2 separate regions of the Homo sapiens genome follow, and region 2 is linked to region 1. Evidence: fine-mapped expression QTL. A gene starts in region 1. The other region holds a variant in brackets. All regions are shown on one strand. Distances are from middle to middle. Region 1 holds the start of ADPRM (ADP-ribose/CDP-alcohol diphosphatase, manganese dependent). Region 2 overlaps MYH13 (myosin heavy chain 13).

Region 1 (8,330 bases):
TACAAGGTGGTATGGTTCTGAAACAGATCCTTTTGCTCTGAAAGACATCAAGTGGCAAAACTTGGAAGACTGAACTGTAATCCAGCCTGGGCAACAGGAGTGAAACTCTGTCTCAAAAAACAAACAAATAAACAATACCCTGAAGATTATCTGAACACTGAACAGCAGCAAAATTATCAGCGTCAATTTTCTAATTTTGATGGTTGTATTGTGGTTATGCTAGAAAAGGTCCTTGTTTGTAGGAAATACACCAAAAAGTGTTTGGAGCTAATGACGCAACATGTCAGCAAATAAATACTCTCAAATTATTTAGGAAGACTTTTCAGATTATTTAATAATACATTTTTTAAATAAAACAAACGTTAGAATTGCACTTGAAATTCCAAACTAAAGTCAAAAAAAGCTTCCATATTCTAGAATTTTCCCGCCACAACTTTCCTAGCTTTTGTTTCTTTGTGAAACTAAAGAAACTTACTGCTTATTAGACTATGAAAATCTTACCCAATACTACTTATTATGCCAAAGAGTCTCATATATATGTATGTCAGTACAAAACTTAACACTGCTAAGTTCCTAAAGCCTATGAATTCCCAGATTTAATCATTAACCTTTGTATATAATGTTATCAAAAGAGACTCCAAAGAATGGAAAGATTTAAGCAATACTTTAAAGATTTACCTAAAACCTCTAAACCAAATCTTAAAAGTCCTAGGATATTCACTAAAATGCAAAGTTCTTATAAATAATTTCTAAATATTTCAAGATGCTAATCCAGAGCAGTTCCTGGCATTTCCTGACCAGGCTCTTTTCACCTCCCCCTCATCCACAGAGGGCATGCAGTATCTACTCGCACTATGCTCCTTGCCTGATCTCTAGGAAGCCTTCTCAAATCTCAAGGCTGGGACTTGCTTTTGCTCTCACAACATGGTAAGCTTCCTTCTGGCCTGGCAGAATCGCATCTAGTAAAATACTTTACTTCTGTGTCTGTTTCCCTTCCGTGTGCACCTCAAAGGCTCGACTACATCTTACTCATCTTCGTACCCTCCAGATTTCATCTTGCCCAGTCAAATCTATCCACAGTATATCTTTTAACATTGTTATGCAGTGGTATCCTAGCTTGGATCCTGGAACAAATAAAAGACATTGATAGAAAAACAAGTGAAATCCAAATACAATCTGTAATTTAATAGTTGTGTGCCATTTAAAATTTCTTAGTCATGAAAAATGTGTCATGGTTATACAAGATGTTAATATTAGGGGAAGCTGGGTGAAAGGTATGTAGAACCTATGCTATCTTTGCAATTTTTTGGTAAATCTAAAGTTGTTTCAAAACAAAAAGCTAAAAAACAACAAAAAAGGTGCTAGTCCATAGCCAGGAAGACCTTTATACAGGGCTGAGCAGATGATAATCTACTTACTCTCTGCCTTTTCTTTCTTGACGTGCTTCATTCCAGCCAGTAAAGCTCCTCCAATAGCAAATGTGATTGCTAAAGACTTCCAGGAAACAGGCTACTGGGGCAGGGATTTCAAACATAAAAATTCTAGTAAGATGCAAACATTTAACCATACAAACTTATTAAAGTAGTTTTTAATATACATACACACAGGCCATGATGTTAAATGTGCAAAATGTTTCAGGGATGAGAAAATGCTCAAAGTTTCTGTGGATGCAGTTAGGTCTGGGATCTGAACTACAAAGGCATTCATCTCCAGGGGAAAGTTCCCTAAGTCAGTTCTCTTCATGTAAATAAAAAAAAAAAAAAAAAAAAAAAAAAGCTCAAGTACCACGATTGTTACTATGTGTGACCCTAGCTCCAGTAATGACTTTAAAACCAATTATGGCCGGGCGCGGTGGGTCACGCCTGTAATCCCAGCACTTTGGGAGGCGGAGGCGGGTGGATCACCTGAGGTCGGGAGTTTGAGACCAGCATGGCCAACATGGTGAAACCCCATCTCCACTGAAAATACAAAAATTAGCCGGGCGTGGTAGCGGACCCCTCTAAACCCAGCTACACGGGAGGCTGAGGCAGGAGAATCGCTTGAACCCGGGAGGCGGACGTTGCAGTGGGCCGAGATAGGGCCACTGCACTCCAGCCTGGGCAAAAGAGCAAAACTCCGTCTCAAAACAAAAACCAAAATCCAAAAACACACACACAAAAAACAATTATCTGCTTATGCTGATACTGAGATAAATAGACCAAACGAAATTTGGGAGGTTAACTTAACTCTGGCTTCCAGAAGTAACAATGCCAAAGTAGAAGAGGAATCTAAAAGTGGAGCTTCTTGCAAATTACACCCATTATTTCTTTGTACCCTTATTCAACTCCCCAAATGAAGATGATGTTGGCCAACTAGACTAGGCCTAACTCATTAACCTTCCCGTAGCTCCAAAAACCCACTTCTCTTACCACAGGGTAGTGGCTCTCAAGTTATTTCTGGGTCAGAATTAGAACTCGAGAGAACCCCAAGAAAAAGGCAGATCCACACATAACTAAGTTCCACTTTTTGTTTCAATTTCAACGTATACATGGAACTCTGGATGGGGCTCAAGTGACAAATTATAAAAGTCCTCTGACTTCTCAATCACGGTAAACTTTAGGTTCATACCCTTAAGAAAACCTGAAACTTAATTTTTTTTTTTTTTTTGATGGAAACGCTAACATAAAATCCAAGTCGGGGCATCCAGCCACGTGGAGAGGGTGTAAAGTCTCAAGTTCTCTGTGGAGAACTGGGACTACCCGCAAGGCACGGGAAATGTAGGATGAAATTCCATGACCCAGGTAAGGCGCGCAAGCTAAGGACAACTTTAGGGGAGGCGGAGTAGTGTCTGAGGTTACGACCAAGTGGGATGTGGCCGCTGGGCTGGCCGACAGCCGCGACGAGCACCAGAAGGGTTCCAGGTGTGCACTCACCCCGGGCTTCGAGGGGCGCGTGGAGTCTCCGGGGCCCTTCTGCGACCACGGGGGTGGCGGCCTCGCAGTGCTGAGGGGCCGGGTTCCCAGGCAATAGCCAGGGCGCCCCGAGGCACGCCACGCCTCCGCTTGCCGCGCGCAGAACTGCCTCAGCAAGACTCTCGCAGTCCCCTCGGCTGGGCCCCAAAACTCGAGTCCGCGAGGCAAGAAGCGCCAAAGTTGGCCACCCAGAGGCCGCATAACTCGTCCGGGTACTAGGACCAGCATCGCCATGAGCCTCGGAGACCGGGTCTCCTTTGACCCTCCCCGCGATTTCCGGTAGCGTTCCGCTTCCTCCGGAAGTCGGAAGGAGTCGCTCTGTCCGTCCCGCTCGTTGGTGGCGCTGTTACATAGCCCGTAGTCAGAGGCCTTTCAGCCCAGGGGCCGGCGCACGGTAGGTAGTTCCCTGCGGCTGGAGGCGGGTCTGGCGCGGGCTGGGCGGTGCTGCGGGGCCGCGGGACAGCGGAGCGCCGGGAAGGGGGCTGCCTTAGGGGTCCAGGTGCGCGGCTGGGCCGAGGCAAGGCGGCCCCAAGCGCTGGGGGCCCCCGCTTTGGTCGTGGGCTTCGGTGACCACAGCTAGCTCCTCGCGCCGGGGACACCCCCACCTCGGAAGAGAGAACACACTGCCTAGAGACCCACGGGACTGGGCAGCCCCCATAACCCTACCTTGTCTGGCCGACTTTGTCAACCTCGTCCTGCCGGCCAAGAGGAAGTGCCAGAATGTTGACTCCTTTACATCTTTGAAATAGAAACCGACCCATTGCGATTGAAATAGTCTTTAACTTAAAAAAAATTGCTAATTAGGATAATTTGAGTGGTTAGGGCGGTCTGGAAGAACTTTAAATGCCCAGCGCTTCTAGTTATTTAACATTATAATGTAACCTAATTAATAAAGCATAGCAGTGTGTAAAGAAATATAGACAGCATGATATCCCATCCGTTAACTTAGTCTTCCTGGGTCCCAGTTTCTTAAAATACTCTCACGGACTCCCTTGCTCCCTACAGTTTCGTTATTTGAAGTTTGTTATGGGTTCCTCATCTGGAACTGCTTATGTTCCTTGTTAATGAGGCCAAGAGCATTCGTAGGTTTTTCGTTCTTTGTGAAAGTCTAACTTCATTTCATCTGCCTTTATTTATATCTTAATATCCGCAATATTAACCACTCCCTCCCCGCCCCTACCTCGGTGGTTGCTTTACAAAATACAGAGAAATAAAAAAAGGAAAATCGTCCTCTAATTATCTTCCTTAACTACAGATCCCGCTCCTGTGTGGCTTTTTTTTCCCCCATGGGACCGACTCTGAGTAGGAGAAACTCGTGCTCTGATGATTGTTGGACCAGAGCATGGTTGGTTTGCTTGTTTTCTATGAGTTAGCCAAACTAGCCAACTGTTCTGTTCTCTAACCCAGTAACGGAACATAGTGTTACCTGTGTTTCTTGATTCGCGGTTGGACTAGAATTTTCAGAAATTTCTGCCAAAGTTCTTAAATGTTTGTTCAGCACTTCAAGTCGTTAATCAAACTATTTTTTTCTATCTTATAGTTGCCTGTGGGTAGGATTTTTGCTCTTTTATCTTTGTGTATTTGTTTGCCCAGGGATAATTTTTTCTTGTAATTGACAAAAAGACATAAAAGTACCTTGTGTAGTCAGGCAGATAGCATACAAAATTATTGTTCATCTCTGATTGCCCAATTGTAGGTTACCTGATCAGCCACCCAAATTAAGATTGAAGTCAGTGTTTCTACCTGATCTATTAAATTTTATTTGCTAAAGTGCTTCTTTTAGTAGCAACTTCTTCATATTAATTTTATAATATTAAATAAAATGCTATCATTGAAAACAGTTCTTGGGGCCAGATGTGGTGGCTCACGCCTGTAATCCCATCACTTTGGGAGGCTGAGGTGAGTGGGTCACTGGAGCCTAGGAGTTTGAAGCTGCAGTGAGCTGTGATCGGGCCACTGCCTTCCAGTCTGGGCAACAAAGCAAGACTCTGCCTCTAAAAAATAAATAAAATAAATATAAAATATAGTTCCTGGCTCAAAGTAGGTGTTTTATAACTGCATTTTGGATGAATTGCTAGTAACACCTGAGCCTGATGGCAAGGACCCATGAAACTTTAGTGCCAGAAGGCGCCTACAGTGTTATCCCTTATAGACCTTATCACTTTTATTACTGCTGTGAAACCACCAAAGTCACCAAATGAGGTTTATGTTTTGTTTTCCAAGTTAGATATTTTTCTTTTCTTTCTTTTTTTTTTTTTTTTTTTTTTGAGACAAAGTCTCCCTCTGTCGCCCAAGCTGGAGTGTGCAGTGGTGCGATCTCAGCTCACTGCAACCTCCGCCTCCTGGGTTCAAGCGATTCTCTTGCCTCATCCTCCCGTGTAGCTGGGACTAGAGGTGCGTGCCACCAGGCCTGTCTAATTTAAAAAATATATATATTTTTAGTAGAGACAGTGTTTCACCATGTTAGCTAGGACGGTCTCGATTTCCTGACATCGTGATCTGCCCGCCTCGGCCTCCCAAAGTGCTAGGATTACAGGCTTGCGCCACCACACCCGGCCCCAATTTAGATATTTTTCTTGAGAGAAGCAGGGCATGGATTAGTATCATCTGATATTGGTTCTATCAATAGTGATCAGATTTTGTTCTTGACATAACTTTAGGCTGGTTTGACTGGGGACAGCTAGGCCCTAACTTTTGTGAACTTCCCAGCACCCTAATGTGTTTACTTCATTTTTGTTCCAGGCCCCTGCCCCTTGTGCCTAACTCCTAACCACAAACATTTCCTGCCCCAACTTAACTTTCCTTTTGGTATGGTATCTGCGTAGAAAACATATGCTGCACCCTTAGGCTAGGAGCCTCTGTTACAATAGTTTCTCCTAACAAAGTCTCTCTTTATTAATCTCTAGACTTTCCCTGCTGCCCCCTTCACCTTTGACAATAGAGTGAAGAAATCATACTCTTTTCAGGGTAGAGCTACTTCTTTTACAAGTTCATTATTGATGCTTGAAGGCTTTCCACAAGGAACTTCAGCCTTCTGCCAATCTTAAGTATTGGAAAAGTTTTATTAGTATGATCTTATAGCAACTTTTCAGTAATTAAGCATCCTTGGGTATGGGAGGCCTGAGGCAGGTGGATCACTTGAGCTCAGGAGCTTGAGACCAGCCTGGGCAACATGGCAAAACCCTATTAGTATGATCTTGTAGTAACTTTTCAGTAATTAAGCATCCTTGGGTATGGGAGGCCTGAGGCAGGTGGATCACTTGAGCTCAGGAGCTTGAGACCAGCCTGGGCAACATGGCAAAACCCTATCTCTACAAAAGAAAAAAAAAAAAAAGCCAAAAAAAGTCAGGTGTGGTGGTACATGCCTGTAGTCTTAGCTACCAGGGAGGCTGAATTAGGAGGATCACTTGAGCCCAGGAAGTCGAGGCTACAGTGAGCCATGATCGCACCACTGCACTCCAGCTTGCGCAGTAGAGCCAGACCCTGTCTCAGGAAAAAAAAAAAAAAAAAAATCTCTCATGCCTAAGGTAGTTTTCTCAAAATACTGGCTGCTTATCCTGTACTATGACATGATAGGAATTTTGAGAGCAACTCTTGTAAACTTTTCTACATTATTCTCTTCTATTAAAATGTTGCAGTAGTTTCAGTTATGAGGCTCATTAGACAGATTTTCAGATATATAATTTTAAAATTATTTTCTTAACATGCGTATAGTACTTTATGGTTTAGAGATTTACAGAGTAATAGTTTACTGTGATCATAACTCAGTTGAAGCTCACGATAACCTATTGAGGGTTATTTTGCTTCAGGAAACACGAGGACTATAATTCAGTTCTGGGTTTTTCATTTCAAAGGGTTCAGCACTTCATAATACCTCTTTAAAACTTAGACAGCGTAGCATGTAATAAATGGTGCAGGCAAACTTTGAAAACAAAGTTCACTAAAAACTTGCCATTCTCCTTTCTATTCAAAAGCGAAATATTTCCTTAGGTCTTCTAATTTTTCCAGATTTGATTTTCTCTAAAGTTTTGAATTTTCTTTTTTAAAAAAACTTTATGTATACTTTTTTTTTTTTGAGATGGAGTCTCGCTCTGTTGCCCAGGCTGGAGTGCAGTGGCGCGATCTCGGCTCACTGCAAGCTCCGCCTCCCAGGTTCACACCATTCTCCTGCCTCAGCCTCCTGAGTAGCTGGGACTACAGGCGCCTGCCACCACACCCGGCTAATTTTTGTATTTTTAGTAGAGATGGGGTTTCACCATGTTAGCCAGGATGGTCTCGATCTCCTGACCTCGTGATCCGCCCACCTTGGCCTCCCAAAGTGCTGGGATTACAGGCGTGAGCCACCACGCCTGGCCTATATGTACATTTTTAAACACACATAAAAGTAGTTAGAATAAACTTCATGCACCCATTTCTAGCTTCCACAATTATCCTGTACTCACTGATTTTTTTGTGTGTCTGTATTTGATGGAGGGAGGGAGCTATTTTGAAAACATTTCCTGACATTAGAATGCTTATTAATTCTAAGTTTCCTCACTGGAGGTGGCTTTGAGTTTTTGATCTCTCTGTTCACCAGGACCAATCTTTCTGAGCTCCCCCTACATGTCCCTGAACCAAGAAAGGAAAGGCTAAACTCGCCAGGAGAGTCAATTCCCTGACCACCTGGTTCTTTTTGCACTGCCGTACTCACTTCTGATCCTATCTTTCCCTGAATATGTTTCTGAAATCTGAAATGGCCCCAAATCAGAAATTTGAGCACCAACATGAAGCTCAAAGGAAATGTTAATTGGAGCATTTTGGATTTTGGATTTTCAGATCAGGAATGCTCAACTGTTAAGTATATTCCAAAATCTGAAAAAGTCCGAAATCTAAAACACTTCTGGTCCCAAGCATTTTGGATAAGGAGATACTAACCTTATTTTTAAAAGCCATGTATATTCAACACTTTGGATCTCTCTTTTTACCCCAGAACACATCGCTGTTTTGAAGTGTGTGCCCCTTGGTGCTTCTCTCCACATTAACTTTCCTTAAAAATTGCCAGTTCTTAGGATAGCCTTGAGTTTTTCTAAACTGAACTTGTTCCAGTGGAAGGTGTATTTGAGAGGATTTTGGTATCAAATGACAGAAAATCAATTTGATTTAGCTTTAAGCCCAGGAGAATTTATGTGCTGACATGTGTAACTAAATGACCAGTGTTCTAGCAGGGACAGGTGAATTTAGGTATTCAACTAATGTTTTCAGAAATCTCCATCTTTCCATCATTCAGAATTGTTTCTTTCTATGTTGGATTTCTTGTCAGTTCATTTTCTCCAAAAATTGAAGCCTTAGTTTATCAGCGTTTGTAGTAGTGGCAGTGCCTGTCCCAGGGCTGATGCTTAT
Region 2 (8,330 bases), 380 kb before region 1:
CTTGGCCTCCTAAAGTGTTGGGATTACAGGTGTGAGCCATGGTGCCCAGAGCCCAAATAGGTTTTGTGTTTTTTTTTTTTTTTGGACAGAGTCTCATTCTGTTGCCCAGGCTGGAGTGCAGTGGCACAATCTCGGCTCAATGCAACCTCCACCCCCTGGGTTCAAGCGATTCTCCTGCCTCAGCCTCCCGAGTAGTTGGGATTACAGGTGCCCACCACTGTGCCTGGCTAATTTTCGTATTTTTGGTAAAGACAGGGTTTCACCATGTTGCCTAGGCTGGTCTCGAACTCCTGACCTTCCAGGTGATCTGCCTGCCTCGGCCTCCCAAAGTACTAGGATTACAGTTGTGAGCCACCATGCCCGGCTGCAAATAGGTATTCTTATACCCATTTTATAGATGAAGAGAACAATATTCAGAGAGGTCTGAGTATTTGGCTTGCTCCCAAATATCCCTAATAGTGATGAAACTGGGACTAAAACTTTGCATCGCTCATGAACAAATTATTTTATGACTTGAGATAGAGTATCTTTCTTAATTAGTGAAAATTTTATTGAGGGTATCTATTATAATAGTGACCATAAATCAGGAGTCAACCTATTCTCTAAAATGACAGGGCAACTGCTCTCCTGTTATCCTGTGTCGGTTCGTATTTCCCTAGAAACCACCAGCCATCCTGACCACCACCGATTACTGCATCGGGAGATGCTGGGTGTGTTTGGATTATACAGGATTCTTGATAGCCAAAAATGATTGTCTGTGCCTCTATGTTAAACATAACTGAGAGATTCTGCGCTGCTCTCAGGATGTTAGGTGATTGATTTTCTGCTTCCTGAGAGGAAGACATTGAAGAACATAATGAACACATTTATTTATTTTCAAAGGGGAACTGTGCCAGAGAACGCCTAGGAGATAAAGTAGCAGCCCGTGGATGTTTCAGCCCCTGGGATGGCTGAATGTTACTCCCAATGGAGACTCAGGGTCTCCTGGCAGGAAAGGCCCCATGGGGTGGTGAAGGGCAGCCTCTTTCAGTTCCCTGTCCTCCTGAATTTCTGAATGTCATATCCTAGACACTTACCTCCACTTCTTCTAAGGCGACCTGCAGATCTGACTTTTCCTGCTCCACTAGCTTCTTGGTCTTTTCCGCTTCCTGAAGATTCTTGCCAGTTTCTGCAATCTGCTCAGTTAAGTCGGAAATCTCTTCTGCAAAGGACAGGCTTGATTTAGGCTGTTTCAACAGGCTCCAGTTTATAGTATAGGCATTTGCCAGGCAATTCAGGGATGGGCGATTCATTCATGACATTTATACAGGAGAGAATACAGGGCAGCCGTTCAGATGAGGTGTTGGCAAGACAGGGATGTGTTGCCTCACCTGCACTAGGCAGACAGGAACCACAAGTAAAGAATAGAAACTTAAAACTTCAAAAGTACCATATACAAAACGGTCATAGAGAAGACCAGAGAAAACAACTGTGGGGAAAACGCATAGAATCATAGTCTGCAGAACCAGAAGGGGCTTTGGAAAGTGTTGGGTGTGGTCTTCTGATTTTGTAGATCAGAAATCTGAGGTCCTAAGGGATTCAGTGGCATGTGCAAGAATACAAAGCCACCTAGAGACAGAATCACTGAAGGGTCTTCTCTAACGGAGCAGTGGGCTCAGCAACCCACTGTTCCTTCAGTTCTCAAAAATGAGACTTAGCTGCTGCCGTGCCTTACATTAAAAAGGTCTGGGCCTTGGGGCAAACTGAGTCAATGTGAGGCATGATGGGTGAGGATCGTGTGGGGCAGTGGGAAGGAGGTGTCTGGAGATGGCTGTGGCCAAATGGGGAAGGGGTTGGCAGGAGGAGAGGGGGACATAGCACACACCAGTGGTGGAGACAGCTCACCTTGCAGATTTTTGTTCTCTCGCCTCAGTGTCTCTAACTGGTCCACCACCTCCTCATAGGCATTCCTCATCTTGAAGAGTTCAGTGCTGAGTGACCTGGACTCCTTCTGAGCAGCTTCCAACTCAGCCTGGCTTTCGTCCAGCTTTTGCTTCCACTCTGCAAGGACCTGGGAGATGACAAAGGGACATGGGAGAAGCAGAAAGCAGGGGTGACTCAGAAGAGTTCATGCAAACAAGGGCTGTCAGTAACACCAACGTTTTGCCCTTCCATCCTTAGGGACTGAAGAAGGAGGAGGAGCACTGTTCTAGATCAGGGACCCCAAACTGTGATATCCCTGCAGACCCTCTGCTGCATTCTCACAGACATTATAATCTCAGTGGAACGGAATTAGCTTTCACTAAAAATAAAATTGCCTTTGGAGGGACTGTCACAGTAGTCAAGAAGACACCTCAAGTCCCTGAAACTGGGAAATGATGCTCCAACTGGGGGCCTTCTAGGATGTGCAGGTATCTCACACATCTAAGCGTGAAACTGTTGTTTTCACCACTGCCACTGCAAAACATTTGTCCCTTTTCCAAATTCAGGTATTTTCATGTAAATAGCATTTCCCCAACTTGAATTATCCTCATGCCATCTTCACAAAGAAAGCGGCTGGGGAAGGACCTTGTCGAAGTTCCTCTGCTTCTTGTCCAGTGTGGCACAGGCGGTGTGGGAGCGCTCCAGATCCCGCATCAGATCCTCCACCTCTCCCTGCAGCCTCTGCTTGGTTTTCTCCAACGATGCGCACTTGGAGTTCGCCGTCTCCGTGTTCTCCTCTGCTTCCTGGAGCCTCTGGGCCAGTTTTTTCCTACGAAAACCAGATTTTTTTTTTCCCCTTCGCAAAGGTGGAATATTTCAGTAGGTAACTGTCAGATGGGAAGAGAAATGAATAGCGTGGAAGGGACTGGTGTTTGATGAGACCAAGACCTAGGATTTGGTGAGTGGGGAGGATCCAAGTGTCACCGAGAGATTCTCAAAATGCTTGGTGGCAAAGCAGGTCCCTAAGGAGCACCTCCAGGGAGCTAGGTGGAATGGACAGTTCCCGAGAAGAAGGACAGGGAGACCCCCAGAGGGTGGGGGGTACAATCCGAGTGTTTCAGAAACCACAAAGGCGTGGGCAGGAAAGAATCTCTCAAGATATGAAGACTCCTGGTCCCTTGGCTTGTGTCCTCGGGCCCCCTCTGCTATTGCCACCCTGGAGCCCCTACTTGGCCTCCTCCAGCTCCTCTGTGCGCTGAATGGCGTCCGTCTCGTATTTGGTCCTCCACTGGGCAACCTCACTGTTGGCCTTGGACAGCGCCCTCTGCAGCTCGGCCTTGGCTTCCTGCTCCTCCTCATACTGTTCCCGCAGCAGGTCACAGTCGTGGCGGGAGGACTGCAGGGCGTGCGCCATGGCGTTCTTGGCCTGGGAATGACAGCGGTGACAAATTGCAAAAACATTTGACCCTTTTCCAAGTTCAGGTATTTTCATTTAAATCGCTTTCCCCCAACTTGAATTATCCCTATGCTGTCTTCACCAATTTTGCCATATCAGCATATCACCTGGTTTATTTAATTTTTTTTCAAGTGGACTCCTTAATTATATTTAAATATATTTAACAAAAGAGTAAACTGTCACAGGAAAGTAAGTGGAAAACCATTGACATTTGCCATAAACAGAAGGTAACCATAAGTGCAATGGAAATAAAGCAATGTTATCATGTCTAGCTAGGTACTGTTGCCTGCTGGGACTCCATGCCTGGGGTCTACCCTCTATTTCTTAATAGGGTAAATAAGCAAATGCTAAGGAAGTGTGGTTCACACTGAGGCCTTTTCCTTGATATAATCAGAAGGATTGGAACAATTAAAAAGGGAATAATTTTCTCACTACTTGATGCAATGGTATGGAATGCTGTGACCAGGAGAAGCCTGAAAGCATCTTTTGATGTCACCACTGGGCTATGTCCCCACACTGGGGATTGCTGATGTGAGCTTCGCTGTTTCCACGGCTGGACTTCCTCCTCCTAGGCAGAGAAGACATGCCTAGAGGCCTCCATCCCTCACTCCCTCCCATTGGAGGGATGTAAGGGCAACAGTTTAGCTCCGACTATAATGGCCACAAGACGCCCTCTGGTGCCACCATCAAAGAGAGAGTTCTGTCAGCCCACTTCAGTAATTTGTACATTTTCATCTTTTTAAAAATGCAATAGACCAAGCGTGGTGGCTCATGCCTGTAATCCTAGCAGTTTGGGAGGCCGAGATGGGCGGATCACCTGAGGCCAGGAGTTTGAGACCAGCCTGATCAACATGGAGAAACCCTGTCACTACTAAAAATACAAAACCGGGCATGGTGGCACATGCACGTAATCCCAGCTACTTGGGAGGCTGAGGCAGGAGAATCACTTGAACCCAGGAGGCAGAGG[T/A]TGTGGTGAGCCAAGATCGAGCCATTGCACTCCAGCCTGGGCAACAAGAGTGAAACTCCATCTCAAAAAAAAAAAAAAAGGCAATAAATGACACACTTTGCCTAAGAAGGAAAACTCAGCTGTTGCTGTATTCTTGCCAAAGGACAGCCCGCTCCTGCAGTGGCTCTTCTCAGTACTTGTTCAGGCTTGGGTTCTCACCACTTCCCCTTTCCCCTCATCTACCAAAGATCTTTACCATACAACAGAAAGATGGGAGACAAATATGGCGCTTGTCCTTTTTCAGAAGAAAAAGGTGGAGCTTGGGAAAATTCCAAAAGATTGCCCTATAAGTCTTAGCCAGCGTACAGCAACCTCGGAATTCCATTCATGCAGTTTTTTGGACTCTTAGTCCCCTATTCTGATACTTGAATATGAATTGGCAGCACCAAGTACCTACTGTGTGCACTGTTCTGCTAGGCACAGTAGGTACAGTGGGGACAAACTATTCTTGCCCTCCATGAGTTTATAGATCTGTGGGGAGACATGTATTATAAACACAATATCTAGACATTGAAATCAAGAAGGTGATGATGTTCATGTTTATGCGACTGTCTCAAGGGTGCTCCCAAAACCATGGAGCCTTCTTGGAGGAGGGGAGCTTAAAATCAGGTGGTATAGGAGGTGACACATCAGGAATAATGAAGAAGAAAGAGGAGGGGGATTTCAGGTGGCCAGGATGAATTGCTGGGCAGAATGATCAAGTGTGTGCAGTGATGGGGAGGAGGTGCCCTGGCTGGAAAGGGGAGTTTCTCAGACCACCCTGCGGGGGACAGAGGAGGCCAGGGGATGGACCACCATAGGTACGGTTTTCTATTCCTGAAGAAGGAGATCCAGTGCCAAGGTCCTCTAACCTTAAAGGACAGGTTCCCACCATGCTGCAAGGCAGACAGGAGAAGCAACAGGTTTCTTTCTTTCTTTCTTTAATGGAGTCTCGCTCTGTCTTCCAGGCTGGAGTGCAGTGGCGTGATCTCAGCTCACTGCCACCTCCGCCCCCTGGGTTCAAGGAATTGTCTGCCTCAGCCTCCCGAGTAGCTGGGATTACGGGCACCTGCCAGTACACCCAGCTAATTTTTTTTTGTATTTTTAGTGGAGACGGGGTTTCGCCATCTTGGCCAGGCTGGTCTTGAACTCCTGATCTCGTGATCCATCTGCCTTGGCCTCCCAAAGTGCTGGGATTACAGGTGTGAGTCACCGTGCCCAGCTGCAGCAGATTTCTTGATGTAGCACTGCTCTGACCAGCTTCACGGGTGAAGTGGTCATATAGCCTGGCTTCTCAGGTTCAATCTGACTCTATATCTTTACCTTGGTTTCTTCTTCCATTTGCCTCTTAAGCTCCTCCAGCTGCTGGGTGAGGGCCTGCTTGCTTTTGGTCAGCTGTGAAATCAGAGACTCCTTCTCTTCCACTCGGTGGCTCAGCTCCCCTACCAAACAGATGTGGCCCCCACGTCAGTGTTACTGACCACCCTCTCCCATGGCCCGGCTGGACCCAGAGCCCTGCCCATTCTCACCATTTTGGGTCTGCAGTCTTGCTTTCTGCATGTTCAGATCATGGATCAACTGTGTCTGTTGCTCGTCCTTGGCTTTGATTTCACTAAATTGATCTTCTACCGTCCGGCACGTTCTTTCTATGTTACTCTTTAACAAACAGAAAGTCAACACGAATGGGAAGAAATGGATTCCTAGTGCCCAGCATTGAACTGAACAGTGTAATCATTTAGTTTCTTGTCAGGTAAAATAAAAATAAAAGTACAGAACAAAAAAAAGTTCAGTTTCAAAAAAATCATAATCGGCCAGGCGCAGTGGCTCACGCCTATAATCCCAGCACTTTGGGAGGCCGAGGAGGGTGGATCACCTGAGGTCAGGAGTTTGAGACTAGCCTGACCAACATGGTGAAACCTTATCTCTACTAAAAATACAGAAATTAGCCAGGCGTGGTGGTGCATGCCTGTAATCCCAGCTACTCGGGAGGCTGAGGCAGGAGAATCGCTTGAACTCGGGAGGCGGAGGTTGCAGTGAGCCGAGATCATGCCATTGCACTCTAGCCTTGGCGGCAAGAGTGAAACTCCGTCTCAAAAAAAAAAATCATAATTATTTCAGATTTGTGAATGCAGCTCAATCACCAATCACTTGGAACATCAGGTAGATAAGTATTTAATGATTTGTAAACAACCCTTTGAGAAGATGTCACTTTTAAGTGGATCTTTGGGATCCTCTTGTAATATAAGTGATTCGTGAATAATTGCAAGCAATACAAGCCTGTGAATATTTGCAAGCAATATATTCAGATGACAGTGTTAAGCATTTCATTCAATAACACAGAAGGTTCCCCATGGTGCAGGCCGTATGAAGAGATTCACCTCTCTGGCTTCCAGTTGGCCTGTATTTTTGTGAAGTTTGTTCAAAACCCTTGTGTGTGTTGACCTTTCTCTCCTCCTGCTGCTCCATAAAATAGAAAATAAAATGTATAGAGCATATGTTTTTCTTTAGAATGGTAAGTATGAGATGGCAGTGGAGGAAGCAGGGACACTAATTCCACGGGCGTCCTGGAGGAGCTTAGGATCTCTTTGAGAAGATGACACGCAAACATGAAGGAATCAAAGCAGGGAGAGTTGAAACGCGATGGCAGCTTGCAAGGAGAATCGTCAAAGGGGACAACTGAAAAAGCGTTAAGAGACATGACGTGCTGCTTCCCCTGGATGTTAAAATTGAGAACAGAGAGCAGCACACGGCAATTCTGGAGATAGGGAGGCTGGAGTGGGGGCTGTTTATAGGCATAGTGTATGGGGGATGCTGGAGGCCCTTCCTACCCAGCTACCCCTGCAGGCTGGCCTGGCTCGCCGAGAGAGAGGTGTGGGAGGGGAACATTTACAGAACCAAGTTCTTAGAGGAAGAAAGAAAACCAAGGGAAAAAGGGCAAACACATGGGAAAGCAGGAAAGAAAGAGAAAAGGAGTCATCAGCCGGAGCCAGAGGCTGCAGTCGCGGAGTGAAGAAGCAATCAAGGAGGCACAGGGCTGCGTGGACGCAGACCCTAAACACTGGCAGCAGGGGGCGCTGGAGAGACCACTCTAGTTCTCTGATTCATATCTCCCTTCCTTTTCTGGACAGATGCCCTGACCTTCCGGGAAACCCTCGGTGAGAGGCCCACAGCCTCGCTTCTAGGGTCACCACTGCTTCTTCCAGTCTAGCCAAACAGCTCCTAGTACAGCTCAGAGCACCCTGCAAGGAGGGCACGTGTTAAATCGAGGAGCACACATGCTCCACGAGGAATTCTTTGCTTTGAGGCCATGCACAGAGGTGGGTTCACTATGAAGCTTGTGAAATAAGCTTCAGGGCCCGCATTTGCATGGGCCACAGAGAGTCTGGGAGCTGCAGAAGGTTCAAGGGAAGAGGAGCCATCACAAGCAGAATATTCTAGAAGGCATTTCTGGCAAATGGCCCAAAGAGGCCTCAGGAGAAAAGAACTTGAGTCTTCAAGGTAACCTGCGACTTTTTTGTCTCATTTTAAATATCAACTTTCATGCCTAATTTTTATAAGTTTGTATACTTTTTTCTTAAAGAGCCCCAATCGGCCAGGCACAGTGGCTCATGCCTGTAATCCCAGCACTTTGGGAGGCTGAGGTGGGTGGATCACCTGAGGCCAGGAGTTCAAGACCAGCCTGGCCAACATGGTGAAACCCCAACTCTACCAAAAATACAAAAATTAGCCAGGCCTGGTGGCGTGTGCCTGTAATCCCAGCTACTTGGGAGGCTGAGGCAGGAGAATTGCTTGAACCTGGGAGGTAGAGGTTGCAGTGAGCTGAGATGGCGCCACTGCAATCCAGCCTGGGGAACAAGAGCGAAACAGTGGTGCCAGATCATCCAATTGTGCTTGAATCAAGTGATCTTGATGCTTTGGTCTGAAAGTTTGTGTCCCCCCAAAATTCATAATTTCCAGTCCAGTGGTGTTGGGGGGTGGGGCTTTTGG

Evidence for each region. PIP is the estimated chance that this variant, and not a neighbour inherited with it, causes the effect.
Region 2: its variant is fine-mapped to the expression of ADPRM in Th17 cells (Schmiedel 2018, PIP 0.95).

The regions. Positions count from the first base shown.
Region 1 is chr17:10,694,323-10,702,652 of GRCh38, forward strand. ADPRM (ADP-ribose/CDP-alcohol diphosphatase, manganese dependent) reads left to right here and starts at 3,272. Exons shown (of 4, transcript NM_020233.5): 1 at 3,272-3,345. SCO1 (synthesis of cytochrome C oxidase 1) reads right to left here and starts at 3,211. Exons shown (of 6, transcript NM_004589.4): 1 at 2,913-3,211; 2 at 1,419-1,509. The coding sequence starts at 3,185. RefSeq lists enhancers at 2,188-3,011, 3,012-3,836, 3,130-3,424, 3,140-3,189 and a silencer at 3,310-3,639.
Region 2 is chr17:10,310,027-10,318,356 of GRCh38, forward strand. MYH13 (myosin heavy chain 13) reads right to left here. Exons shown (of 41, transcript NM_003802.3): 28 at 5,873-5,999; 29 at 5,667-5,785; 30 at 3,132-3,328; 31 at 2,548-2,731; 32 at 1,885-2,050; 33 at 1,077-1,201. It overlaps LOC107985004 (a long non-coding RNA gene), which reads left to right. Exons shown (of 5, transcript XR_007065617.1): 2 at 7,472-7,841. Among named protein-coding and RNA genes, the nearest start is that of MYH13, 59 kb to the right of the region's middle. The variant T/A (reference allele first, on the strand shown) is at 4,326.